Homo sapiens: one gene and its partners. The protein of the gene in region 1 purifies or fractionates together with the protein of each later gene. This does not show direct contact. Each region holds a gene or a part of one and is shown on either strand. Other genes may lie near its edges. The genes, in order: PRKCZ, LLGL2, NIPSNAP2 and LLGL1.

Evidence for each region.
Region 2: the proteins of PRKCZ (region 1) and LLGL2 purify together in Homo sapiens (affinity purification with mass spectrometry; 8 studies listed by BioGRID and IntAct, with this or other methods). This does not show direct contact.
Region 3: the proteins of PRKCZ (region 1) and NIPSNAP2 purify together in Homo sapiens (affinity purification with mass spectrometry; 4 studies listed by BioGRID and IntAct, with this or other methods). This does not show direct contact.
Region 4: the proteins of PRKCZ (region 1) and LLGL1 purify together in Homo sapiens (affinity purification with mass spectrometry; 7 studies listed by BioGRID and IntAct, with this or other methods). This does not show direct contact.

The regions. Positions count from the first base shown.
Region 1 is NC_000001.11:2,046,320-2,053,426, reverse strand, and holds the start of PRKCZ (protein kinase C zeta type), read right to left. Parts: upstream 3,017-7,107; 5' UTR 2,797-3,016; coding exon 2,726-2,796; intron 2,672-2,725; exon of another isoform or gene 2,415-2,671; intron 1-2,414. UniProt on the Homo sapiens protein: Calcium- and diacylglycerol-independent serine/threonine-protein kinase that functions in phosphatidylinositol 3-kinase (PI3K) pathway and mitogen-activated protein (MAP) kinase cascade, and is involved in NF-kappa-B activation, mitogenic signaling, cell proliferation, cell polarity, inflammatory response and maintenance of long-term potentiation (LTP).
Region 2 is NC_000017.11:75,556,685-75,563,706, forward strand, and holds part of LLGL2 (LLGL scribble cell polarity complex component 2), read left to right. Parts: intron 1-1,470; coding exon 1,471-1,552; intron 1,553-1,827; coding exon 1,828-1,943; intron 1,944-2,567; coding exon 2,568-2,726; intron 2,727-6,331; coding exon 6,332-6,494; intron 6,495-6,646; coding exon 6,647-6,779; intron 6,780-7,022. UniProt on the Homo sapiens protein: Part of a complex with GPSM2/LGN, PRKCI/aPKC and PARD6B/Par-6, which may ensure the correct organization and orientation of bipolar spindles for normal cell division.
Region 3 is NC_000007.14:55,981,585-55,988,606, reverse strand, and holds part of NIPSNAP2 (protein NipSnap homolog 2), read right to left. Parts: intron 6,398-7,022; coding exon 6,327-6,397; intron 4,880-6,326; coding exon 4,739-4,879; intron 3,761-4,738; coding exon 3,729-3,760; intron 1-3,728. UniProt on the Homo sapiens protein: Protein involved in mitophagy by facilitating recruitment of the autophagy machinery required for clearance of damaged mitochondria.
Region 4 is NC_000017.11:18,221,699-18,228,636, reverse strand, and holds the start of LLGL1 (lethal(2) giant larvae protein homolog 1), read right to left. Parts: upstream 3,003-6,938; 5' UTR 2,955-3,002; coding exon 2,874-2,954; intron 1-2,873. UniProt on the Homo sapiens protein: Cortical cytoskeleton protein found in a complex involved in maintaining cell polarity and epithelial integrity. Involved in the regulation of mitotic spindle orientation, proliferation, differentiation and tissue organization of neuroepithelial cells.

The DNA of each region.
Region 1 (7,107 bases):
TCCCTGAACACAAACGTTGTCTGAGCTGGGCCAGGCGCGGTGACTCACGCCTTTCATCCCAGCGCTTTGGGAGGCCAAGGCGGGCGGATCACGAGGTCAGAAGTTCGAGACCAGCCTGGCCAACAAAGTGAAACCTCATCTCTACTAAAACTACAAAAGTTAACCGGGCGTGGTGGCGGGCGTCTGTAGTCCTAGATACTAGGGAGGCTGAAGCAGGAGAATTGCTTGAACCTCGGAGGTGAAGGATACAGTGGGCCGAGACCACACCACTGCAGCCTGGGCAACACAGCGAGACTCAAAAAAAAAAAAAAGTCTGAGCTGAAAGAGGGAAGAGCCAGCACCAGTGTTTGTGGCCCTAGAAGAGCGGGCATCTGAGACTCAGCGTGGGAGTCTGGCCCAGGCCACCTGGGACTCCCTGAAAACACAGGTGCCTGGGGACCCCTCAGGCCCACAGGGGGCGGGGTGGGGTGGCGAGGATTGGATCTCAAGTGTGCTCAGAGGGCCCTGGGAGGACAGGCAAGGATGACGGGGTGGCCATGCCCCATGGGGGTGACTGAAGTGCTCTTCCTTTTTCTAAAGACTAGTCTTCCACGTGTCCACGCTCAGCTACCCCCACGGACAGCAGCGTCTCACCCCAGGGACAGAGTTTCTAGGGCTTTCAATAACCCAGTACTCATCCTGGCAGCCGCTTTCTGGAACTGTGTCATTGCCCTAAGGCCTGAGTGTCCCACCCCACAGCCAGTCCCCTCAGAGAGGCACCGGGTGCCCAGAGGGACGAGGAGCCAGAACGGGGAGAAGGGTACTTCACACTCTGCAGCAGAGAGGAGGAGGACCTGGGAGGGGAGAGAGGAGAGAAGGAATGGTAGGAGCAGGGAAGAGCCAGAGGGGAGACGTGCCCTAGAAGGGGGAGGAAGGTGAAGGAAGAGGTGTGGCAGGGAAGGGAGAGAGGGGAGAGCGGGAAGAGGAGGGAAAACAACAGGGAAGGAGGGAGGAAGAGGAAGGGGTGGGGAGAGAGGGGAGAGAGTCCGGGAAGGGAGGGAAGAGGAAGGGGTGGGAGCCTGGTCTCTCCAGCCTGGGAAACCAGAGTCACCGGGTGGAATTACACCCGCCCCACCACCAAAGTGCTCCCAGGGGCCAAAGCAAGGCAGAGGGAGGACGGGGCGGCCCAGAACTCCAGTGGCATTGCCTCCGAGCCTTGGTCCCAGGAATTGGACGCCGGAATGCAGGAGGGTCTGGGCCCCTGCAGCCCCTCGGGTGTGGACCTCCCTCTCGCAGGACTCCCCTGAGCTCCGCACCATCACCTGTTGCCCAGTGTGGTGGCTCCAGAATGGCAAGGAGACAGGAAGCCCAGGTCCCTGGACAAGTCCAATAGCCAGAACGTCAACCATACCAAGTTTTAACCTGCTGACCTCCAGGCCAAAAGACATGGCTGCCCTACCTCTTCAGGTAGGGCTGGACGGTCAGTCCCCCAGAAATCCCTTTCTTCTGGTTCTGGCACCAAACCCGGGCCACTGCACCCCGAAGGTTCCAGGTGCTTGCCACAGGGGAGCTGCAGAGGCCCCAACCTTCCCAAAGAAGAGACAATTGAGCCTCCTCAACAAACCCGGGGCCAAGCAGCCCCAGATGGCTGACCCGAGACCCCAAGACAAGGTTCGCAGGAAGCTGAACCCGCTCAGACTCGCAGGGCACCATAGAGACCCCCGGGGCACTGTCCTGAGAGGACGTGGCCCGGGGAAGTTGTCACCCGCCTAACCCTGCCGGCCGTCCCTGCCTCTGGGGCTCAGGTTGCCCACGCTGTAGCTGAGGACGCACCGGGGCAGGAGCAGCTTTTCGAGATCCCAAGGACCAGCCAGTGCAAGTCCGGAGCCCGCATTCTGCTCCCCTCCCTCTCTGCAGCAGCAGCCACCCTCGCGGGAGCGGAGGTCCCAGTTCGGGGCTCCTGGAGACGCGCACAGGTGGAAGAACAAACCCACGGGTCCTCCCCTCCCCACCGCCCACACTTCGGGGGGCAGCGACCCCTCCGCTGTGCCTGTGAGCCCGGCCACCTGGTGCAGCCCCCGCCACCCCCAGCAGCGCTGCCCCGAGGCGGCGGCCAAGAGTCCAGGACCCCTCCGCTCCAGCACCTGACCGCGCCCCCTCCCACAGCCAGGCAAGGGCCTCCGGGGGGCGGGTGCGACGCAAACCCCAGGGTCAGTCTCGGCCCCACCGTCTCCTCCAGAAACCCCTGTCCCCGCCCGACCGCCCCGAGCCCTGCCGGGGGCTGCATTGGAGCCACAGCGCCCGCGCCCCGGGTCTCCGGATTTTGGCTAAAGCGAGACCCCCGACCGGGTAAACGTGGAGAACGTTTAGGAAACGCTGATTTTAAGAAACCCGCCAGGAGTTTTCACAACTTGATGAAAACTTTCAGTCCTTACAGGTTTGCGGCCGGAACGTCCCCGCCCAACTTTCCAGCGAAAACGTCTACCACAATGACCGGGCCGAGGAGCTCGCGGCGCGGGGCCGACCCCAGGGAAACCCGGTCCCGGGGAAGGAGCCCGCGCTGTCCACGACGTGTCCGCGGGTGACGCTCACGGGCGGGGACCGAGGACCTCCCGCGACAGCCCCGGGCCCGCAGCGACCTCGCCGCCCCTTCCCTCTCTCCCTCTCGCGCAGGAGCCCCGACGGCTGAGCCCTCCCCGCCCTCCCTGCCTCACCCGCGCCGCTCCCCGCCCTCTCCGCCGCTCACCCCCCGTAATGCGCCTTGAGGCGGACGCGGCCGCCGCTCCCTTCCATCTTGGGGCCGGTCCTGCTGGGCATGGCGCGCTCCCCCCGCCGCCGTCAGCGCTGCGCCCCGGGAGCTCCGGCCATGGCGCGGGGCGGGGGCTCCAGGTGGGGCCGCGGCGGAACGCGGAAGGCAGCGCTCAGGACCGACGGCGCCGACCCGGTCAACTCCGCGGAACTCCGGCGGCGCGCGGGGCGGGAGCGGGGGGCGCGCGGGGCGGGACCGTCCGGCGGGGGCGGGGGGCGGTGTCCGAACATGGCGGACCGAGGTGGAGCCAGCGGCCAATCCGCGGGGCGGGCGGTCCCGGGGCGGGCGGTGGCACCTGCGGCCAATGAGGGCGAGGCGGGGCCGCCACCTGGGCCAATCCTCGGGGGACACCCGGCCGCGGCCCAATGGCGAGGCGCGGGCGGGGCTACCTGTCGGGCGGGGCTACCTGTTGGGCGGGGCGCGGCGCACCTGCGCCAATGGGACCGCGCGCGGCGCGGCTCTGCCCGGCAACCGGAGGGGCCCCGGCCTCTGGGACGGAGCGGCGCCCCCGGGAACTCGCTGGAAACGCGAGTTCTCGGCCTTCGCCCAGACCCTCCGAATCGAAACTCCTGCGGCGCGCGCTGCCAGCCCGAGGGCCCCGCCGTCCAGGGGTCCCCTGACATCTCACACTTGCGGACTGAAGCTGCGAGGAGCGGAGAACCCGGCCAGGGTCACGGACGGGAGCGTCCGGACTCGGGTTCTCTGGGCCCCAGCCCCCACTCCGCCCCCAGCGAATCCAAGGTCCCCTGTAGGGAAGGGCCGTCCACACTCGTGAGTGCAACCGCTCACTTCGCCCAGGTCAAGGACGCGGCATTGGCCCGAGTCGCCCATGACCTTCATTTCTGAAGCCACAGCCTCTCGGGCCTTACTCGAGGGGCTTGATCTGGACAATCGCCCTCCAGGCCCCTCCACCGCCGCCCAGCTCCCTGCCTCCTGGGCTCCTCCCCTGAAAATACGGTTTTCCCTGATCAGCCCATCCCTTACTGGCTGCATCCACTGAAGCCCAGACCTGCTGCCTGCAGGACCTCACCCAGGCACCAGGTGGACACCCAGACCCAGTTCCTGGCCTCGGCCCCTCTCCCCTGAGAGTGGACCTGCTCAGGCCACGCCCTCACACCCCTCACCCAGACACAGCCACCAGGACTTCAGCCACGTGCTTTCATCCCGCAGGTCGTGCCTGGCGCCTCCTTGATGCCAGGCCCTGGGGAGACCTGTGGCCACAGAACCCATGTTCTCCCTGGAGATGGACAGGAGGCCCCTCTCCTACGCAGAAGCTGTCGTTTTTTCTTCTTAAACACCGTTTGCCCCTCCCTCCACCCACCGAGCCATCTCTGCCCCTCTCTACAGCAAAGCTTCCGCCAAGCCGGCCCTGCTCCCTGTCTACCTCTCCTGCCACCACCCACTCACACGTTTTAAATACAAGCCGTCGGTTCTCAGACGTTTTCTCTTTTTTTCTTTCTTTTTCTTTTTTTTGAGATGGAGTTTCGCTCTTGCTGCCCAGGCTGAGTGCAATGGCATGATGTCGGCTCACTGCAACTTCTGCCTCCTGGGTTCAAACCATTCTCCTGCCTCAGTCTCCCAAGTAGCTGGGATTACAGGTGTCCACCACCATGCCCAGCTGATTTTTGTATTTTTAGTAGAGACGGGGTTTTTCCATATTGGCCAGGCTGGTCTCGAACTCCTGACCTCAGGTGATCCACCTGCCTTGGCTTCCCAAAGTGCTGGGATTACAGGCGTGAGCCACTGTGCCCGGCCTCAGACATTTTCTTAACTTGGCCTTTGGTATCAGACCCCTCCTGGGAAGGCTCACACATCCCTGGCCCCGGGTTCCAGCTCCCTAAATCTCCCATCCCTCGCCCTCCTGGTCTGCAGCTTTTAAAACTGTGGAGCCCCAGCCTCAGCCTTTGGCCCGCTTTGCATCCCCAGCTCAGATGGGCCCCCTGAGCTCCCAACCAACACTCACCCAGCCCCAGGCATCCTCCTAATGAGCCTCTCAGCTGACGTCTTCCCCCACTCCATCTTTCTGGGTCATCGAAGTCCCCCCAGTGGTTCCCATCACTCCTGGAGGGAAGGCCAGCTCCTCTGCCCCGGCCTCGAGGCCTCTTTGCTGCCCCGGCCTCCGTCTTTGCACGGCCACTCCCTCTTTGCACAGCCACTCCCTCTTCCAGGAGCACCTGCCTGCAGAGATCTGCTGGACTGGCACCCACACTTCCTTGAAGTCTCTAGCATACCTAATGCCCATTTCAGCAATCTACTCCTCACCCCCATCTCCATGGGGCAACCCCCTCTATCCCTCGCACAGGCACAAAGCCCCATGCCCATCAGCTGGGCATGAAGGGGGGCAGAGAGTAGAGGGTGAGGGGGCAGCCTGGCAGGGTACAGTGATGAGTGGGAACCTGCACCTGCAGCAGCCCTGGATTCAGGCACCCGTCGGCCCAGCTCCCCCACTCCAGGCCCCATGGCCAGGGCTGTGGCCTTGTCTGGAGTCTGGCCTGGCAACATGGCCTGGGCGCTTCCTGATGGGCAGGAAAGAGCAGGGTTTCACCTTAGTGGGGCGGTGCCTGGAAGGGGCCACTGGGCACCCACAGGACTTCCTGGCTGGCGTTCTGATCCAAGGAGGCAGCAAGGCCCGGTCCTTGATACCACTGCCCACAGCAGGCAGGACGGACCCTCGGTTGTGTCCTTCCCTGTCACTGGACATCTCTCCCTGGGCCTGCCCCACCCAAGGCCCCGGAGGACCCTTTCTAACCAAGGACGCCCCTGCTGGGTCAGGCCCTCGGCACTGGCCTCCCTGGGGAGATCTGTGCTGCCAGGCGGGAGCCTCCGTCCTGGAAGCCAGTCCCAGGGCCGTGGCAGTGCCCCAGTCCCAGCGAGGGAAGGTGGGGGGCGGGGCTCTATTCTCTCTGGGGTTGGGAGGGAGAGGGCAACGTCAGTGGATGGTCAACCCCAGTGTCAGACTTTGTTCAGCCCTGATGCCGCCGGTGGAGGGGGGGTCGGGACAGACACAGGTTCCGAAAGGCTCTAGCAGAGGACTGCGGGCACAGGGGCTGCCCAAAACGTCCCCAAAACCTCCCCCAGTACCTGCTCTGGCCTCCCCTCCAGGAGGCAGAGGTCTCCGCTAATGAGATCTGCAAAACAAAGGCCTGGGAGGCCCTGGACCCGCCTCTGGGCAGGCAGGGCAGGTCACAGGGAGGTTCCTAGGTCCTCTGCCCTGAGCCTGTGCCCCTGAGAGGGCCCTGAGGGCAGAGGGCGCTTCCTGAGACACGGATAGGCTCACTGGCTGGCGGTGGTGTCACTGTGTCGCCCGGCGACAGATACAGGGTGTTTGCTCTGGAATCTGCCAACGACTCCCATCCAGATCCCGGCTGAGGGCTGGGCCCTGTTAGGCCGGGTCCCCACAGCTTCTCCAGGCACCTGGCACACGGGGAATGAGTGAGTGACTCGGGTAAGGACCCCTCAAGAGTGCTGGAGCCAGGCAGCCTCCTAAGACCCCTAGTGGGTGGGGACAGAGTCATGTCCCATCGAGCCCAGCACACCGAGAAGGCACAGCCCTGGAAGCTTCCAAGGACTCACCCTGGGTCCTCCGGGGCGGGTGGGGTGTGGAGGTGACCCTTGGAGTGGGCAGGGCAGGCTCCGAGAGAGGCCTCTGGGTGGCTAAAGGCCAGGCTTTTCCACCTCAGCAGTTTCTGTAGCTCCCAAATTTTTCATAAAGTTCTCATATACTTTCATAATCATAAACACCTATTATTTTTTAAATGAAAAAAACAAGTTATGAAAGTCACACTGACTTTTTATAAAACTCAAGCAACACAGAACGGTATAGGGCAAGGTGAAGCCTTTTCCCAAAACCCCAGCTAAGCAGCAAGAACCCCGGCCGTGAAGCGGACAGCCTTCCCTCTCCCAGTGCAGGCAGCCTTCCCTCTCCCGGTGCCTGGGACCGCAGGTGGAGGTGCTAGGTGACCGCTGGGGCTTGGGGTAGGGTGCTGACCGGCAGAGGGCAGTGTGGCTGCAGGGTCTGGCTGAGGGTGGCCTCCCAGCAGGGCTGGGGCACCTGGGAGCCGCAGCTCCTGACCCCGCCAAGGTGGCTCTGTGTGGCTGCCGGGCCTACCCTGTGATTTTCCTTAGGAAGAGTCCTTTGATGATACTGTCGAGTGATGTTGAGACCTTTTAGAAGAGAGGCAGTTTACACTCAGTGTGATTCATCGGACGTCTGGGAGGGGTTGGCTGTGGCCCGTGGGGTCCCCATCACCACACCCCCAGGAGGAGGCCTCCCTCATCAGCCTCTTAAACTGCATTTGTGCTGGCTTAGTGCTTGGGAC
Region 2 (7,022 bases), on another chromosome or scaffold:
TCCCTCAGCTCCCCACCTCACCACCAGAAAAGCAAGTTACAGGGACCCCTCTTGTCGCTAGGGATGTTTTTAATTTAAAAAAATTTTTTTCGGCACTTTGGGAGGCTGAGGCGGGCAGATCACTTGAGGTCAGGAGTTCAAGGCCAGCCTGGTCAATGTGGTAAAACCCTGTCTCTACTAAAAATATTTTAAAAGTTATCAGGGCGTGGTGGCACATGCCTGTAATCCCAGCTACTTGGGAGGCTGAGATGGGAGAATCGTTTGAACCTGGGAGGCAGAGGTTGCAGTGAGCCAAGATTGTGCCACTGCACTCCAGCCTGGGCAACAGAGTGAGACTCTGTCTCAAAAACTTTTTTTTTTTTTTTTTTTTTTTTTGTGGAGACAGGGTCTTGTGATCTTGCCCAGCCTGGTCTTGAACTCCTGGGCTCAAGCAACTCTCTCGCCTTGGCCTCTCAAAATGCTAGGGTTACAGGCATGAGTCACTGCACTCCCAGCCTGCAGTTTTGTTTTTTAACCTATCTCGATAAGAATCAGAGGTGGACTGGCCCCAGGGCCCTATCCACAAGCAGAGATGGGGTGGCCTTGGGCCAGGAGAGCAGGGCTCGGCAGCTGTCTTCCAAATTCCACCCCCACTCCCACAGGCGGCAGAGAGTGGAGAGGGCTCTGCCTGGCAGGGACAGTCCTTCCCCGGCCTGAGGCTGGATGTTGTCCAGTTGGGTCATCTTTTATCCAGAGCACTGGTTCTGGCCGACTGGGGGCTCCCAGTGTTTTCAGAGATGAAAAACCGGATCAGGTTGGGCACCCCGCCAGTCTGATCTGTGCTCCCCTCAGGGCAGGGCCCAAGGGAGTTGAGAGATGAGGGACCACCTCCAATAGCTTGGCTGCCACCTCCAGCGGAGCCTGACCTCCCTCTTCCCCTCTGCCCGGTGTGGGGGAGGGGTATGGAGCACTCGAGTTCCAGGCTGGGCTGGTGTACACAGGGGGCCAGGGCCTTGCTGCGGGCTCAGCCTTCCCTCGGCTGGTTAATCATTGCCAGGCCACAGCCAGACTCTAGTTACCAATCCCTGGTGCCAAGACTAATGGGCCAAGGCTGTTGGTGATAGGCCCCCTGGGGTGCCGTGTGTTTTTTCACAGGTGCTACCAAGCGACAGCCAACATGTCTTTTGCAGCTCAGGATCAGGGTGGCAGCCTGACAGTTGCCAGGGTAGGGCTTCGCCTTTCTATGGAGTTGCTCCCACCGGCCTGACTGGGAAAAATCTCCCAGGGATCAGGTCACTGGCCTGGTGCCCCAGGGCCAGGGCTGCTGTGTCTCCTCCCCACCCTAGGCTCCATGCATGGGTCCTGCTGCCTCGGGGGAGGGCAGCCCCTCTCTGTGTTTGCATCATTGCACATGGGCCCCGAGGGCCTGGCACTCAAGGCAGGCAGGGGATGGTGTCCGACCTTCCAGAGCTTTCCTGAGCCTACTCCTAGCTACGGAGCCCCAGGCGTGGAGTTCATGGGGCTGCACCAGGAGAACAACGCTGTGACGCAGATCCACCTCCTGCCCGGCCAGGTGAGGGACCTGGGGTGGGACAGGAAGCCACTTCCATGCCCTCCTTGCCTTCACTGCTTCCAGCAGGGCTGGTGTGGAGAGGCTGGCATTCGGTGGCCCTGGGTTTGCTGCTGATGGAAAGACCTGGGACCCCCTCCCTTTCCACAGCTGGGGCTCATGGGCCACCCTGGGAGTGGCCAGGGGGTCTTTTAAACAACTGGGGCTGCGTGGCCCCAGTGTGTAAAGGCCTTGCCTGGGTAGCAAGACCACATGATCCCGTCGTGTGCCCTCGCCAGTGCCAGCTGGTCACCCTGCTGGATGACAACAGCCTGCACCTTTGGAGCCTGAAGGTCAAGGGCGGGGCATCGGAGCTGCAGGAGGATGAGAGCTTCACACTGCGTGGACCCCCAGGGTAAGGGCTCAATCCCCAGCCCCTTCCACTCCCAGCCCAGCCTGACCCTTGCCCTTAGCTCTGGAGTGGACTCACCCTTTGTGAGGCCTGTTGCGCCCCTGGCAGTGACTGGCATGCGTTTGGCCCGATGCATCGCCACACTCAGGTGCTCCGAGTGGAGTGGGCGGGGCTGCAGCCTGCCTCCTCCATCCACACCACGCCTCCTCCATCCGCACCCCACCTCCTCCATCCGCACCCCGCCTCCTCCATCCGCACCCCACCTCCTCCATCCACACCACGCCTCCTCCATCCGCACCCCACCTCCTCCATCCGCACCCCGCCTCCTCCATCCGCACCCCGCCTCCTCCATCCGCACCCCGCCTCCTCCATCTGCACCCCGCCTCCTCCATCCGCACCCCGTGTTATGCTGGAGGGTCCCTGGCGTCTTTCCTGCCTCCTAGCCCAGGCTCTCTGCCATCTGTCTCCTGTCTTGGCAGAAAGTGACCAATGTTTGTCCTGGCTTGAAATGTTATGACCTCATTAAAGGGCCTTATGGGCTTGTTTTCCGAGGAGTCAGGGGACCCCGTCCATGGCATCTCCCCTGCTGGGCAGTGGTCGGCTCACGGGCAGCTGTTCTTGTCACAGGGCTGCCCCCAGTGCCACACAGATCACCGTGGTCCTGCCACATTCCTCCTGCGAGCTGCTCTACCTGGGCACCGAGAGTGGCAACGTGTTTGTGGTGCAGCTGCCAGCTTTTCGTGCGCTGGAGGACCGGACCATCAGCTCGGACGCGGTGCTGCAGCGGTGAGCCCAGAGCCCAGCTGCTGTTAACTCCATCCCCTCAAGTTAGGCATGGCTTCTCCCCTTGGTCCCAGGACTCTGTCAGGAGCTGTCATTTCTCTGCTGGGAATTCCATGGGGCTATAGCAGGGGAGGCTCTTGGCTTCCTACCTGTCACCTACTGAGAACCTATTGGCCTGTCATAGGTTAGCATCATAGCACTAAAAAGGGGGCTTTGAGGGTCCCTCGTCTAAAGGCCCCAAATGACTGTGTAATGTCACCGACTGTCAGTCCAGTGTCCTTTGCACTTGCCATGGGTTTCAGAACCCCAGGGGCTCCGCAGCGGGGAAGTCGGGCCCAGACCTCCCTGTGTCACTGGGGCAGCTCCTGGTGCCACCCTTTGCGGTGGGTACTTTGCTGAGGTTCCATTTGCTCGCAAGCTCCGTGGCTAAAAAGCCTTGACCGCCACAGGCATGTGGGTCTGTTGAGATCGTTTCAGAAGCTTTGCTCCTTGTTGATGATACTACATTAGAGAGGGAGTTGGATCAGGTCCGGGTGGGAGAAGGGGACGGGGCCCAAAAAAAGAGAGGAGATAGCATCTGACAAGATCATGTTGGGGCCGGGTCGGTCATGGTGGAATGATCTGTGGTTCCAAGGGGCAGGAGGAGGCCAGGGTGCTGGGCCCCTGGCCCTGCAAGGCTTTGGACTGGGCCTGGGACACACTCCTGCAGCTGGCCAGCCCAGCTCTCCAGCCCTGGGTGGTGATGAAGCAGGGCCCGTCTGCCCAGGGCAGGGCATGACTGGGCTGGGAGGATTCCCACTTGGAGCTGTGTCCCTCTGAGTGCAGACCTCTGCCTTTCCCGTTCAGCAGGGTAGGGCTGGGGCAGTGTGTCCAAGGTCAGAGCAGAACACTTTGCAGGATGACAGGTACCACAGTGGGACACAGCCTGTGGGCAGGACGGCATGGGACCTGCGCCCCAGCAGGTGGCCACACCAGTGCCCAGCCTCACCCTGTAGTTAGCTGGCGGGAATCTAGTCGGCGGGGGGGCCCAAGTGCCCTGAGAGCCCCTCCTGCCAGTTTATTTATATTATATTATATTATATTTTATTTCATTTTTGAGATGGAGTTTCACTCTTGTTCCCCAGGCTAGAGTGCAATGGCACGATCTTGGCTCACTGCAACCTCTGCTTCCTGGGTTCAAGCTATTCTCCTGCCTCAGCCTCCCGAGTAGCTGGGATTACAGGCATGCGCTACCACACCCAGCTAATTTTGTATTTTTAGTAGAGACAGGGTTTCTCCATGGTGGTCAAACTAGTCTCGAACTCCCGACCTCAGGTGATTGACCCGCCTCAGCCTCCCAGAGTGCTGGGATTACAGGCATGAGCCACAGCGCCTGGCCCAGTTTGTTTATTTATTAAAAAAAAAAAAAAAAAAAAAAAAAAAAAACAAAGAAAAAACATTTTTTTTGAGAGAGTCTTACTCTGTCCCAGGCCGAAGTGCAGTGGCAAGATCTCAGCTCACTGCAACCTCTGCTTCCTGGGTTCAAGTGATTCTCCTGCCTCAGCCTTCCGAGTAGCTGGGATTACAGGTGCACGCCATCACACCCGGCTTATTTTTGTATTTTTAGTAGAGACGGGGTTTCACCATGTTGGCCAGGCTGGTCTTGAACTCCTGACCTCAGGTGATCCACCCACCTCGGTCTCCCAAAGTGCTGGGATTACAGGTGTGAGCCACCAGGCCCAGCCCCTTTTGGCAGTTTAAATTCTCGTCCTCTTGATGACACTTATCTAAGTTTTTAAAACGTGCAACCCTTTAGTCTCATAACTGTCTCTGAGAAGTCTCTGTCCTAAAGATATAGGATAAGAATGATCATTGTAGGGCTGTTTTTAATGGCAAAAAGTTGGAAGCCCTCTAATTGTCTAACAATTTTCATCTGTGTAAGGACATTATTTGCATTTATTAAGAATATCTAGATGGACACAGTTGCTCACACTTTGGGAGGCTGAGGTAGGAGGATTGCTTGAGGCCAGGAATTTGAGACTAGCCTGGGCAACATAGCAAGACCCTGTCTCTCCTCACAAAAAATAAAAATTAGTTGGGCAAGGCGGCACACGTCTGCAGTCTCAGCTACTTGGGAGGTGGGAGGATCACTTGAGCCCAGGAGTTGGAGGCTGCAGTGAGCCATGATCAGGTCACTACCCTCCAGCCTGGGTGACAGAATGAGATCCTGTCTCTAAAAAGATTAAAAATTAGGCCGGGCGCGGTGGCTCACGCCTGTGATCCCAGCACTTTGGGAGGCGGAGGCGGGTGGATCACCTGAGATCAGGAGTTCGAGACCAGCTTGGGCAACATGGCGAAACCCCGTCTCTACTAAAAGTATAAAAAATTAGCCTGGCATGGTTGTGGGTGCCTGTAATCCCTGATACTCGGGAGGCTGAGCAGGGAGAATTGCTTGAACCCCGGAGGTGGAGGTTGTGGTGAGCCGAGGTCACACCACTGCACTCCAGCCTGGGCAACAGAGCGAGACTCCCATCTCAAAAAAAAAAAATTAAATATTGAATATTAAAGTCCCCTTCAACTCTCACTCTTGATTCAAATTCTAATGTCAGTGAGGTCAGTGCTAGCAGTAGATGTGCCAGATATAGATAATGTGGAGAGCTTGGGTTTAGTGTGGCTTGGGTCCAGGCTGGGTCCACTTCCCACATCCTTGCTGTTGGCTGTTGGTCCTGTGCCTGCTGCCTTGTGGTTTTTTTGTTGGCTGCAACACCTCCAGCCCTCACGGCAGCATTCCAGGCCTGGAGACGGGGCAGGGGTCAAGGCTCCAGGGCCAGGCCAACTCACACAGAGTTTTGTTTTATGGGGCTAAAAAACTTCTTTATTATTAAACACTCCCTTTTGCAAAAATGCACTGAATATGAATGTACAGTTTAACAGATTCTTGTAGAGCATCCTTGCAGCCTTCCTGCCGGGCATAGAAATAGAACTTTGATGCCCTCCGGAGGTCTTATGCACCCTTCCTAGTCAAGGCTCCCTCTTGCCCCCACATTGACTTTTCCAGAAGTCACTGCCTTGCCTTGCCTTATAATTGTACCGCCTGTGTTTACATCACTGGAGGTTGTGTCCATGTCTCTGTCTTGTTCTACATGCTGCCCTTCTCCCCTTGGTGACATGTCCTAGCCATCTTTCTTTCTTTTTTTTTGGAAATGGAGTCTCACTCTGTCACCCAGGCTGGAGTGCAGTGGCACGATCTCGGCTCACTGCAACCTCCGCCTCCTGGGTTCAAGCAATTCTCCCGCCTCCGCCTCCCAAGTAGCTGGGGTTATAGCCATGTGCCACCACGCCCAGCTAATGTTTTATATTTTTAGTAGAGACAGGGTTTTGCCATGTTGGCCAGGCTGCTCTCAAACTCCTGACCTCAAGTGGCCTGCCCACCTTGGGCTCCCAAAGTGCTGGGATTACAGGCATGAGCCACCACGCTCGGCCATCCACTGCGCCCAGCCCCTAGCCATATTTCTATGCTGGCACATGGAGCAGCCACCTCTGCATAGGGAGCCCCATGGCTGTGCCATGCTGGGGGCCATTCCCCCTGGTGGACGGCATCGGAGGCTCACGGCACTCCCCTCGCCCAGGTTGCCAGAGGAGGCCCGCCACCGGCGTGTGTTCGAGATGGTGGAGGCACTGCAGGAGCACCCTCGAGACCCCAACCAGATCCTGATCGGCTACAGCCGAGGCCTCGTTGTCATCTGGGACCTACAGGGCAGCCGCGTGCTCTACCACTTCCTCAGCAGCCAGGTAGGCAGTGCCCAGGACATGGCAGGCGCCATGTTGCTCTCCCAGGGCCCCAAGTGGCACATACACACTGTGCAGAGGCATGGGGTGCAGGCGATGGGAACGCCGCCTCGGTCCAGCGTGCTGCCCTCTGTCCCTCTCCTCTTCCTCCATAGCAACTGGAGAACATCTGGTGGCAGCGGGACGGCCGCCTGCTCGTCAGCTGTCACTCTGACGGCAGCTACTGCCAGTGGCCCGTGTCCAGCGAAGCCCAGCAACCAGAGCCCCTCCGCAGCCTCGTGCCTTACGGTCAGTGTTTCACCCGCCGGGCAGGGCCCACCCCCAGTGCCTCCTGGATTCAGGTGCAGGTTGCTCAATTCTGAAGCAAACTCCAGGGCCAGAGAGGGTAAAGGCTTTGTCCAAAGCCACACAGCAGGGTTCGCCTCACCCAGTTTCTTGGGGAACTTCTCGGAGCAAGATTCCCAAGCACAGGTCTACCATGTGGATGTGGCATGAGCTAGAGGGATCTGTGCCTGTGGGGACTGACACTTG
Region 3 (7,022 bases), on another chromosome or scaffold:
ATTACAGGCGTGAACCACTGCGTCCAGCCCACATGTAATTTCTGAGGGACTACTAGACTATTTCCAAAGTGGCTGCACCATTTTACATTCCCATCAGCAATATCGGAAGGGTCCACTTTCTCCTCACCTCACTAACACGTTATTATCTATCTCTTTTAAGTTACAGCTGTCCCAGTGTGCAGGAACTGGTATCCCATTATAGTTTCACTTTGCATTTCCATAATGACTAAGAAGGTTGAGTCCCTTTCCATAAGCTTATGGGCATTCATGTATTTTCTTTGGTGAAATCCTATTCAAATCCTTTGTCCGTTAAAAAGTTTTAAAATTTATTTAAAAAAAAATTTTTTTTTTGATACAGGGTCTGTAGCCCAGGCTGAAGTGCAGTGGCACAATCTCAGCTCACTGCAACCTCTGCCTTCCAGGTTCAAGTGATTCTCGTGCCTCAGCCTCCCAAGCAGCTGAGATTACAGGCATGTGCTACCACACCTGGTTAATTTTTGTATTTTTTGTAGAGATGGGGTTTCACCATGTTGCCCAGGCTGGTCTCAAACTCCTGATCTCAGGTGATCTGCCCACCTTAGCCTCCCAAAGTAGCTGTGAGCCACTGCACCTGGCCTAAACATTTTTTAAACGTATTTTTTATTGTGGTAAAAAAAACACGTTAACATTGAATTTACCATCTTACCCATTTTTATGCAGTGTCCAGTATATTTACACTGTTATGCCACAGATCTCCAAAACATTTTCATTTTGTAAAACTGAAACTCTATACTCAATAAACACCAATTCCGTATTCCCTCTCTGCCCAGCTCCCGGCAACCACCTTTCCACTTTCTGTTTCTATGATTTTGGCAACACTGGATACTTCACATAAGGAGAATGATACACTATTTGTCCTCTTATTTCACTTAGCATTACATCCTCCTCAATGTTCACCATATTGCAGTATAAGACAAGACTTCCTTCTTTTTTGGAGGCGGGGGATGAAGTCTCGCTCTGTTGCCAGGCTGGAGGGCAGTGGCGCGATCTCAGCTCACTGCAACCTCCACCTCCCGGGTTCAAGTGATTCTCCTGCCTCAGCCTGCTGAGTAGCTGGGGCTACAGGTGCACGCTACCACGCCCAGCTAATTTTTGTATTTTTAGTAGAGACGGGGTTTTGCCATGTTGGCCAGGCTGGTCTCAAACTCCTGAGCTCGGGTGACCAGCCTGCCTTGGCCTCCCAAAGTGCTGGGATTACAGGTGTGAGCCACCGCACCCAGCCCACAATTTCTTTATCCATTTATCTATTGATGGATATGTGGGTTGTTTCTACCTCTTGGCTACTGCAAATAAAGCTATGATAAACATGGGTATGCGAATCTTTTTGAGATCTGCTTTGAATTCTGTTGGATATATATCCAGAAGTGGGACTGCTGAATCACACTAATTCCATTTTCAATTTATTTTTTATTTTTGTGAGACAGGGTCTCACTGGGAGTGCAGTGGCATGATCATGGCTCACTGCAGTCTCCACCTCCCCAGGCTCAAGCAATCCTCCCACCTCAGCCTCCTGAATAGCTGAGACTACAGGCATGTGCCACCACCACGCCTGGCAAGTTTTTTTTTTTTTTTTTTTTTTTTTTTATAGAGACAGGGTTTCACCATGTTGCCCAGGCTGGTCACCAACTCCTAGCATCAAGCGATCCTCCTGCCTTGGCCTCCCAAAGTGCTAGGATTACGGGTGTGAGCCACCACACCCAGCTGCTGTCTTTTCAAATTCTTTACCCATTTTTTAATTGAGTTATCTGTATTCTTATTATTGAGTTGTAAGAATTATTTATCTATTCTGAATTCAATTTGCTTATCAGACATATGATTTGCAAATATTTTATTCCAGTATATGACTTGTCTTTTTAATTAAATTTTTTTTTTTAGTATCACTGAAAGTAAGGCAATTTTTTGTTTTGTTTTGAAACAGTCTGCTGTCACCCAGGCTATAGTGCAATGGGGTGATCTTGGCTCACTACAACCTCTGTCTCCCAGGTTCAAGTGATTCTCCTGCCTCAGCCTCCTGAGTAGCTGGAACTACAGGTGCACACCGCCATACGTGGCTAATTTTTGTATTTTTAGTAGAGACAGGGTTTCACCAAGTTGGTCAGGCTGGTCTCAATCTCCTGACCTCAAGTGATCTTCCCACCTTGGCCTCCCAAAGTGCTGGGATAACAGGTGTGAGCCACCATCCCCGCCCTAATTTTTTATTTTTTTGAGACAGGGTCTTATTCTCTCCCAGGCTGAATAGTAGTACAATCATGGCTCACTGCAGCCTCCACCTTTAAGGCTCAGGTGATCCTCCCACCTCAGCCTCCCGAGGAGCTGGGACTACAAGTGTGTGCCACCATGCCCGGTTAATTTTTGTATTTTTTTGTAGAGTTGGGGTTTCGTCATGTTGCCCAGGCTGGTCTCAAAGTCTCAAACGTCTGGGCTGAAGCAATTCTCCTCCTTCAGCCTCCCCAAAGTGCTGGAATTACAGGCATGAGCCATCATGCCCAGTCTTTATTTTTATTTTTATTTTATTTTTTTGAAAAGGAGTCTCACTCTGTCACCTAGGCTAGAGCACAGTGGTGTGATCTCAGCTCACTGCAACCTCTGCCTCCTGGGTTCAAGCAATTCTCCTGCCTCAGCCTCCCAAGTAGCTGGGATTACAGGAGTGCACCACCACGCTCGGCTAATCTTTATATTTTCAGTAGAGATGGGGTTTTGCCATGTTAGCGAGGCTGGTCTCGAACTCCTAACTTCAGGTGATCTGCCCACCTCAGCCTCCCAATGTGTTGAGATTACAGGTGTGAGCCAACATGCCCGGACTTTTTTTTTTTTTTTTTTTTGAGACAGGGTCTCACTCTGTTGCCCAGGCTGGAGTGCAGTGGTGCAATCTTGGCTCACTGCAAACTCCATCTTCTGGGCTTAAGCAATTCTCTTACTCAGCCTCTCAAATACCTGGGACCTCAGGCATGTGGCATCACACCTGGCTAGTTTTATTTATTTATTTATTTTGGTAGAGGTTGGGGGTCTTACTATGTTGCCCAGGCTGGTCTTGAACTCCTGGACTTGAGTGATTCTCCTGCCTTGGCTTCCCAAAGTGCTGGGATTACAGGCATGAGCCACAGTGCACCTGGCTAGTCTTTTGCACTTCTAAAGCCTGCTGGGAGTTTGATAGGGATTCTGCTGAATCTACATATCAACTTGTGGAAAAATTGTTATTTTTCTACTCAAACTAGCAAGGAAAAAAAGAAGAAACCATTATTGACATGGTGTGTATATATGACAAAAGTAACGTTTCAGAAAAGATGATATCCAAGAAGTATGTAAACTAACCTTATGCAATATTGGTTTTGCTTTTAAAAAAAAGGTGCTTATCTTTTAGAAATATATATAGTACTGAAATATTTATGAATGAAATAGAATGCTGTCTGGGATTTAATTCCAAACAATCTGGGTTGAAGGAGTTAGGCCTAAACAAGATTGGCCATGTGTTAATTATTGAAGCTAAGAGATGGATGTGGAAGGGGAGCCCCATTATTCTCTCTAGTTTTGTATGTTTGAAAAATCTCATAATAAAAACATCAAACGAAACATTAGTGCAGTGTTAAGTCACAGTACTATCCTCAGATTTTTTTCCCTAGAATTAACACTATGGCCTAAACTAATCTATTCACAAGACTTAAAAAATCACCATTCAGTAATATACTCACCAGTAATTGCCCCATTCAATCATGGTTCCTGGCTGAAAACAGATTTAGATTTGGTTTGTTAGTTCTTCTGTGAAAAAAAAAATACAGAAATAGCAAACAGCAGTAGAAAAAACATTAAGTGACAAAACTAACTTCAAAAAACCTTTTTTTTTTTTTTTTTTGAGACAGAATCTTGCTCCGTCACCCAGGCTGGAGTGCAGTGGCTCAATCTCAGCTCCTGAAACCTCCGCCTCCTGGGTTCAAGCAATTCTCCTGCCTCAGCCTCCTGAGTAGCTGGGATTACCGGCGCCCGCCACCATGCCTGGCTAATTTTTTATATTTTTAGTAAGAGATGGGGTTTCACCATGTTGGCCAAGCTGGTCTCAAACTCCTGACCTCAGGTCACCCACCTGCCTTGACTTCCCAAAAAGCTGGGATTACAGGCATGAGCCACCACACCCAGCCAAAACTTTACTTTTTAATTTAATAGAGACAGGGTCTCACTATGTTGTTCAGGCTGGTCTCAAGCTTCCTGGCTCAAGCAATCCTCCAACCTTGGCCTCCCAAAGTGCTGGGATTACAGGCATTAGCCACTTTAATAATGCTGCTATGTGGGGCTTTCTTTCTAGTCCTCAGTAGGAAAATTTCTAGAAAGTGTTATATTATTGCCTTTTACTCTTATCATGTTATATAATTTGTTCAACAGTCACAGTGTTTATTAGCTGCTCTCCTTTAACCACAACAGATGTTACATATTGTACCTTATCCTGCACTTTAGGTCTTTCTTCTTAAAAACAAATATGTTATTTAGAAAAATATCAAATAATAAGCATTATGTGTAAGGCCATAAAAAGCAAAAGAGCTTAGCCTTGGTGACAGTGTGAGACCCAGTCTTAAAAAAATACATATATATACATATAATGCTAGACATACATCACAGAATGTACACACAAGTTCTGTTGTCAGCCTTACAAAATGCTTGTGCTTTTTCACAGAGGAGTAAAAGGAATAACTTATATTTCTGTACTTACTCGGAGTTGGTAAGACCTGAGTTCATATATATTAGGTCCGGATCTTGGCACAGGCTCATTCCAGAAACTGAACTCCAACAGGAGCTGATTCTTCCTGGAGAGAAGCATGTCACTTCTTGCCTTACGAAATTCCAAAAATTCCTTTGAGTGAAAAAAATGTGCTCATGAAATCTTCTGATACTTACATATAAGCCCATTTCAGTAACATTGATGTTCCTACAGAATACTATAATAGGGTAATCAACAGGTCCCAGTTGGCCTGAGACAGTCCCAGTTTACATCTGTTGAGCTTGCATAATCATTAACAGCATTCCTTTTCATTCTCAAAAGTGTCCAGGTTTAGATGACAAATTACTTGGTCATCCTAATTATTTAGGTGGCAATGCAAACAAATTTAATTTGCTATATTTTTAGATTCTTCTAACAGTGTTTGATGGCACATCAATAGAAGTAGCATGCAGACTACAAAAGAGCAGATAATTCAAAACCTATTTATATTTGTCTGGGAATCTATACAAAAGAATTTCTTTCTTAATGATGTGTGGCTTTTAAATTTCTCCCTATTGACAAACACCTGCTAGTGAAGGGAGGGTGGAAAGCAAAGTCAGCCCAAGATAAACTCTATGTGTGTGACAAACAGTTCCTGAATTAGACAGTTTTAGGTCATCCAGAGCTAATTGTGCCTGCCATGCTGATTGATACACCAGTCACCAGTCTTTTGGGGGTTTTTTTTGTGTTGTTTTTTTGAGGCAGAGTCTCACTCTGCTGCCCAGGCTGTAGTGCAGCGGTGTAGTCTCGGCACACTGCAACCTCTGCCTTCTGGGTTCAAGCAATTCTCGTGCCTCAGCCTCCCGAGTGGCTGGGATTACAGTTGTGCACCACCATGCTCGGCTAATTTTTGTATTTTTAGTAGAGATGAGGTTTTGCCATGTTGGCCACGCTGGTCTCAAACTCCTGGCCTCAACTGATATGCCTGCCTTGGCCTCCCAAAGTGCTGGGATTACAAGCATGAGTTACCGCACCCAGCCCAGTCACCGGTTTCAAAGTACCACCTTATCAGTTTCAAAGCATAATTGACTTTTATAATAAGAACAATAAGAATTTTTTTTTTTTTTTTGAGACAGAGTCTTGCTCTGTCGCCCAGGCTGGAGTACAGTGGCGCAATCTCAGCTCACTGCAAGCTCCACCTCCCGGGTTCACGCCATTCTCCTGCTTCAGCCTCCCGAGTAGCTGGGACTACAGGTGCCTGCCACCAAGCCCGGCTAATTTTTTTGTATTTTTTTTAGTAGAGACAGTGTTTCACTGTGTAAGCCAGGATGGTCTCAATCTCCTGACCTTGTGATCCGCCTGCCTTGGCCTCCCAAAGTGCTGGGATTACAGGCGTGAGCCACCGCGCCCGGTCAGAATTGTTGTTTGAATAGTATTACAACTGTTTATGTTTAAATACAACTTCAGGAGTCCAAACAATAAAATTTCTGTTACAAAAAAATGAAGTTTATTAACAAAAACTGAAGACAGAAAAGTCATTTAATTCTGTACTAACATCTATATATCATTAGTCTAAGTAAACATTTTTCAATATCATTACCTTATTTTCTCTGAGTTTATTCATGACTTCTGTGAGGGCTGGATAGCCTCCTTCATACCTCCAGAGGTGGACTGAAATGCATTTTAAAAGACAGTATACGTTTAGAATTTCATGATACTACTACTTGAAAATGTTCTAGATAGGTATAACGTTAACACAGCACAAAACTGTAGGCTGGGTGTGTGGTGGCTCATGCCTGTAATCCCAGCACTTTGGGAGGCTGAGACAGGCGGATCACTTGAGGTCAGGAGTTCCAGACCAGCCTGGCCAACATGGTGAAACCCTGTCTCTACTAAAAATACAAAAATTACCTGGGTGTGGTGGTGGGCACCTGTATTTCCAGCTACTTGGGAGGCTAAAGCAGAAGAATCGCTTAAACCCGGGAGGCAGAGGTCGCAGTGAGCCTAGATACTCATCACTGCACTCCAGCCTGGGCAACAGAGCAAGACTCTGTCTCAAAAAACAAAAAAACTGTAATGCCCCATGTTTTGGCCTATGAGTTACATCATAATGGTTCAATAATAGATTCAAACATTAAAAACAATTTTAAAACCATTTTCGCAATGAATTGTTGAAGAAACTACTTTAATCATAAAATTAGACTGAGACTTGGAAAGCTTTGATGATAAGAACAAGCATTAAATTAGAAAATTACTTAAGTGTTACATAAGGCTTAAGGAAGAAGTGTTTATTCCA
Region 4 (6,938 bases), on another chromosome or scaffold:
AAACGAGGAAAGGAGGTTACATGCACTGTCCAGCATCTGCTTCCCTCATACCCCACGTCCAGTCCATTTCTGAGCCCCATCAACTCAGTTTCAAAACACACAGAAGTCACCTCCCTCCCTGCTCCAGGCCCCACCGTCACGTGCCTGGATTGGTACTCACTACAGTCTGTTCCCACAGAGGCCAGAGGGATCCTATGAAAGCCACAGCCAGATCCTTGTCCCTCCCCTGCTCAGGATCCTCCTGGGGCTCCCAGCTAAGGGAGGCTTGTGCCTCAGGGCCTTTGCACCTACTGCCCCTCTGCCTGGAACGCACTTCCTCCAGCACTTCCTGTCGCTCAGGAGTAATCTCCTCAGAGAAGCCTCCCAAGGCCACCCTGGCTGCAGCAGCCGCCCTGGCCACACCTCTCACCCCCTCGCCCTACTTTATTTGATCCACAGCACTGGCTACCATCCCAACTACAGTCTATTTTACTTTTTTGTTTTGGCTTTTCACTGTCTCCTGCACAACTATATCAGCCACCTGAGTTAACAGGTATTTGTCCTTTTTGGTAACTACTGTTGTCCCCAGCACCTTGGAGACCTCACACACAGTGGGGCTCAGTATTAACAGAGAAGGCACATTCCACAGGCGATGTGTGGGCTGGACTGGGATTTGAACCCAAGACTCAGAGTCCAAAGTCCCTGCTCACTCCTGACCTGTCTCCCACCCCCTAAGCTCAGGAATCAGGGGCCTATTCCCTAGCGATCACCTATTACCCACTTAGGTGACTAAGTCCCTTCCCCAAGACCACCCCACTTTCCACCACTGCTGCCCACGCTTCATCCTCAGCGGAGGGCCCTTACTTTCCGCCACCCCAAGGCTAGCCAGAGTGGGCTGAGCTTCACCCCCATCTGTCTCCAGCCCCCACTGCACACCCCAATTCACTGGCTGAAGAAATGACATTTAGGCCAGGCATGGCAGCTCATGTCTGTAATCCTAGCACTTTGGGAAGCCAACATGGATGGATAGATAGCTTGAACCCAGGAGTTCGAGACCAGCCTGGGCAACATGGTGAAACCCCATCTCTACAAAAAATACAAAAACTAGCCGGGCATGGTGACACGAGCCTGTAGTCCCAGCTTCAGGAGGCTGAGATGGGAGGATCACCTGAGCCAGGGAGTTGTGAGGCTGCAGTGGACTGTGATTGTGCCACTGCACTCCAGCCTGGGTGAGAGTGAGACCCCATTTCAAAAAAAAAAAAGTGACATTTAGCCCTGTGCCTGTTGCTGCCTTTCCCTGAAGGGCCATTCTCCTCTCACCTCACCCTCACAGCCTCCCCGGCACAGAAAATAGGTGCCATCTGGGGACCACGGAGCACCAGCTTCCCTTCTGGGCCCCTCTCAGGTTCCTAGCAGGTTCTCAGCCACCGTGTGAGGGTCCTGGCAGCTCTCATCGGCAATCACTGCAGACCTAGGCAGGGAAACCCTGAGACATCCCAGTGCCTCCACTACTCCAGGTCCAGCCGTCCCAGAGCCTCCTCCAAGACAAGTGTCTCCTCAAGGCAGCCCAGGGCGCCTGGCACAACACTGGCCCAGGACCACAGCAGCCCCTTGGAAAAATCCCTGCCCCTCAAGGCTAAAATCCAACCCCACTGACACAAGAACTCAAGAAAGATATTGGTGCAGCTCACTCTGACTCCGGGCAAGCCGTCACCCCTCTCAGAACCTCAATTTTCTCACCTGTATTTTGAAGATAACTCTAATTTCGAAGAGCACTGAGAGGCTCTGCCATCAGTGGGCTCTGGGGTAAGAATGAGGACAAAACCAACGTCCCCAGAGCAGTGAGCCAGGAGTGGGCTGAGGCCCTGCTCTAACATCAGTGCAGAGGGAGGCGGGGGCTGAGGCGGCCCCTTTCCCTGGCCCCTAGTGTCCCACTCCGGGAAAGGAAGGAAAAGCCTCCACCTCACTCCACCTTGGTGCAGAAAGGCAGGACAGCTGGCCCATGTGGCAGAGGGAGCCAGGGCCCACAGTATGGAGAAAAGTAGCCTCATTTCACAGCTAGGGAAACTGAGGCCCCACGATGCGAAGTGCAGTGTAGTACACAGCCAGGCATGTCCCCTGGACTCGGAGCCCCGGGCAGGGCAGAGCAGGGCAAGGCAGAGCCTGGAGCAGTGGGGGAAGGAAGGAGAGGCTCCTTGAAGGGATTTCCCAGCCGCACCCCCCACAGCTGCCTCGCCCCCACTAACTCTCTCACCCTCCTGGGTGCCAAAGCACAAAACAAACCGGGCCCCAGGGCTGTCCCAAGGGCCGAGCAGGGACGCAATGGAGCCCCTAAGAAAAAGGATAAAGAGACAGAAGTGAGCGACAGAGGTCGAGAGACTCCACAGAGACAGAGAGAGAGACACGCAGGGAGAGACAGGCAAAGAAGACTCAGAGACGCACAGGCAGCAAGAGAAATGAGAGGCAGAGAGATAAAGGGAGACAGGCAGAGATAGGAAGGGGCAGAGGCAGAGACACCCCCACCACACACACAGGCACAACTGGGGCGAGACAGCCGGTCAGCGGCGGAGAAAGAGGGACAGAGACCCAGAGACAGGCAAAGAGTCTCAGAGACAGACCCCCACACACACAGACTGGCAGAGCCAGGGCCAGAGCGGCCCGCAGAGACTCGGGGAGCAGACACGGAAAGTCGGCCGGAGACCCAGACCCACCCAGAGTCCGAGCCAGAGCGGGGCCCGCCGAGGGGGTGCGCGGCCCGGCCCGGCCCCGCCCCGCGCCGCGCTGCATGCCAGCCCCCGCCCCCCGGGCCCGACGTGGCTCCGACCCCGGGCCCCCAGCCCAGGCCCCCGTCCCGCCCCCTCCCGCCCGAGCCCGGGCCCGGGCCGCCGCCGCACCTTGTTGAAGGCGAAAAGCTCCTGCTTGAGCTTCTCGCGCTGCGGGTCGGCGCCCTGCCGCCGGAACCGAAACTTCATCATCTTGCGCCCGGCTGCAGGCGCCTCGCCCGCCGCCGCCGCCCGCAGGATGCGCCGCGCGGCCCCGCGGGTCCTAAGGCGCGGGCGGGGCGCCAGGCGGCCCGGGCGCGGGCGCGCGGGGCCGGGCCTGCACGGGGGTGGGCGCCGGGCGCGACGGACGCGCCGCCCGACCAGTGAGCGAGCCCGCCGTGCCGCCCGCCCCGCCCCTGTTGGCCAGACAATGGTGAACTGGGCCCCCGGGCTCGGCCGGGCTCGCGAAGGGACGCCCGCCTAGCATGCGCCGCGGCGCGGGGCCTGCCGGGACTTGTAGTCCATGAGCCGGGGCTCCAGCGCGGGCGGCTGGGGAAGCGCTTTGGAGGGGGATTGGCGCACGTTCCCGGGCTTGGAGGAGACTTTTTCCTCCTCCCAGAGAGCGAGCGACGTGCCCACTCATGTAATGGGGCAGCCCTGTTCCGAAAGCCAAGACAGCTCTGACTGGAACAACTCCCTGGCCCCTCTGCGCCTCAGTTTCCCCATCTACACCATTGGTCAAGTGATTGCCAAGTTTATATTTTACCAATTTCACAGAACTCCATTTCGTCTGTTCCCCGCTCTGTCAGAGCACCTCCCACCGCCGTGCTTTTGCCTTGGCTTTGTAGTCAGGAATTCTTTCCTCACCCCCAGCCCCTGGGGAACTCCTACACATCTTTCAGGACCCAACGCAAAAGGCTCTGTGTCACAGCACAGGGGATTCTTTCTTAGCCAAAGAAAGAGACGGGATCCCCAGGAGGTGGCATTTGGGACTGTTCTGGGGTTGGATTGGAGCTTTACGGAGATGGGGGAAGGACCTCCCCCCGCAGAGAACAGCGTCTGAACAAAGCTTAGCCCTGCCCCTACTCTCAGGGGCCGTCTGCCTGTCCCCACCCACCTCCCAGGCCTTTTCTCATCTGGACAATGGCCTCGAGGCTGAACCTTTCCTTCCAGGCTGAGGATAGGCCGCCTGGCTCAGGGCTGGGGCTGCGGGAGGTCCTAGAAGCTTAGGTGGGGCAGGTAGGACAGGCCCCAACCCCACCAGCTGTGTCCAGGGAGCAGGAGCTGACCTCTGAGCCCGAGGCGGCTGCCAAGCCTTGGGGCCTGGCTGTCCCCCTCCACCCACGCCAGGCCGGCGGTGTTCAGCCCTTCCCCGTATTTGGGGCTGGATCCGGAAGAGGGCCCAGGAGTGAGTGAGGAGGTGAGAGGAGGGAGAATGACGACAGTAAAGCCCCTAAGTGTCTACTGCGGGGCAGGCGCTGTTCAAAGCCCTTTCCTGGTTTCAGCTGACTTAGTGCTGTCAGTAGCTCTACGAGGGAGCCAACAATATTACCCATCCCAAATGAGGAAGCTGAGACCATCAGCCAAAGGCTGTTAGTTGTTGGCAGAGCTGCTGGACTGAGGAGGATGAGACCCCTTTGGCCACTGGCCACGCCACACCAGCACAGGCAGCAGGGACAGCTCAGAGGTCTGGGTTCTGGTCCCTGCCCTGCCTCACACAGGAAGTGTTAAGAAGTTGCTGGCTGGGCGCGGTGGCTCATGCCTGTAGTCCTAGCACTTTGGGAGGCCTTGGAGGGAGGATCTCTTGACCCCAGGAGTTTGAGACCTGACTGAGCAGTAGGGTGAGATCTCATCTCTACAGAAAAAAAATAAATAAATATTTTTTTAATTAGCTGGGCATGGTGGCCCAGCTGTAAATTCCAGCTACTCAGGAGGTTGAGGCAGGAGGATGGCTTGAGCCCAGGAGGTTGAGGCTGCTGTGAGCTGTGATCGTGCCACTGCACTCCAGCCTGGGCAACAGAGCAAGACCATCTCGAAAAAAAGGCCAGGAGCAGTGGCTCACACCTGTAATCCCAGCGCTTTGGGAGGCTGAGGCGGGCAAATCACTTGAGGTCAGGAGTTTGGGAAAAACCCAGTCTCTACTAAAAATACAAAAAATAGCCGGGCATGGTGGCAGGTGCCTGTAGTCCCAGCTACTTAGGAGGCTGAGGCAGGAGAATCGCTTGAACCCAGGAGGTGGAGCTTTCAGTGAGCCGAGATCATTTGCTCTCCAGCCTGGGCAACAAGCGTGATAAATGAAAAAAACAAACAAACAAACAAAAAAAAAACGTTGATTCACATTCCCACTTTACCATTTGGAAGCTATGTGACCTGGAACAAGTTACCTCAAATTCTCTGTGCCTCAGTTTCCTCATCAGTAAAAATGGTGATAATATTAGTATTTACCTCAAAGGGTTGTTGTGGAGATTAAATGTGTCAGGGTAATATGAACCAGAGCAACTCCATCTTGAATAGGAGGTGGGTAAAATGAGGCTGAGACCTACTGGGCTGCATTCCCAGATGGTTAAGGCATTCTAAGTCACAGGATGAGCTAGGAGGGGGTCGGCACAAAATACAGGTCATAAAGACGTTGCTGATAGAACAGATTGCAGTAAAGAAGCTGGCCAAAACCCACCAAAACCAAGATGGCCACGAGAATGACCTCTGGACATCCTCACTGCTACACTCCCATTAGCGCCATGACAGTTTACAAATGTCATGGCAACGTCATGAAGTTACTCTATATGGTCTAAAAAGGGGAGATATGAATAATCCACGTTTAGCATATCATCAGGAAATGACCACAAAAATAGGCAACTTGGCCGGGCACGGTGGCTCACGCCTGTAATCCTGGCACTCTGGGAAGCCGAGGTAGGTGGATCACCTGAGGTCAGGAGTTTGAGACCAGCCTGACCAACATGGAGGAACCCCATCTCTACTAAAAATACCAAATTAGCCGGGCATGGTGGCACATGCCTGTAATCCCAGCTACTCGGGAGGCTGAGGCAGGAAAATTGCTTGAACCCGGCGGGCGGAGGTTTCAGTGAGCCGAGATTGCACCACTGCACTCCAGCCTAGGCAACAAGAGTGAAAATCCATCTCAAAAAAACAAAGGACAACTCTGCCTATGGAGTAGCCTTTTTTTCCTTTTTCTTTTCTTTTTTCTTTTTTTTTTTTTGAGATGGAGTCTTGCTGTGTTACCCAGATTGCAGTACAGTAGCACTATCTTGGCTCACTGCAGCCTCTGCCTCCCAGGTTCAAGTGATTCTCCTGCCTCAGCCTCCCAAGTAGCTCGGACTATAGGCATGCGCCACCACACTCAGCTAATTTTTGTATTTTTAGTAGAGACCGGGTTTCACCATGTTGACCAGGCTGGTCTTGAACTCCTGACCTCAGATGATCCGCCTGCCTTGGCCTCCCAAAGTGCTGGGATTACAGGCATGAGCCGTTGCACCCGACACCCAATCTCCATTTTTCTTTTTCTTTTTCTTTTTTTTGAGACAGAGAGACAGAGTTTCACTCGGTCGCCCAGGCTGGAGTGCAGTGGTACAATCTCAGCTCACTGCAACCTTTGCCTCCCAGGTTCAAGCGATTCTCCTGCCTCAGCCTCCTGAGTAGCTGGGACTATAGGTCTGTGCCACCATGCCCAGCTAATTTTTTGTATTTTTAGCAGAGACGGGTTTTCACCGTGTTAACCAGGATGGTCTCGATCTCCTGACCTCGTGATCTGCCTGCCTTGGCCTCCCAAAGTGCTGGGATTACAGGTGTGAGCCACCGCACCCAGCCAGCAGTCCCCATTTTTCAATGGGACTTGGTTATTAGGCAGTAAGCAGCCATGCCTTTCCCAACCCCTATCTCACAGTTTTTTGGGGAGCAGGGCAACAGAACTGAGTCGAGACCACAGCTAACCATAGCTCACCGTCCTATGATGGGGCATGCACTGGGGCTGTGGGAGCCCAGAAGAGGCATCTGGCCCAGGGTCAGTGTCCTGCTGGGAGAGGACAGTGCACATGGGTTGTAATGGGTAAGGAGTGTACCTAGTGGAAGGAGCCAGGGGATAGGCAGGGAAGAGTCTCATGGCAAACGGATTCGCAAAGTGTCAGTACCCCCACCCCACAACACACACACACTTGTTAATTCAGATTCTAGGTCCTGCAA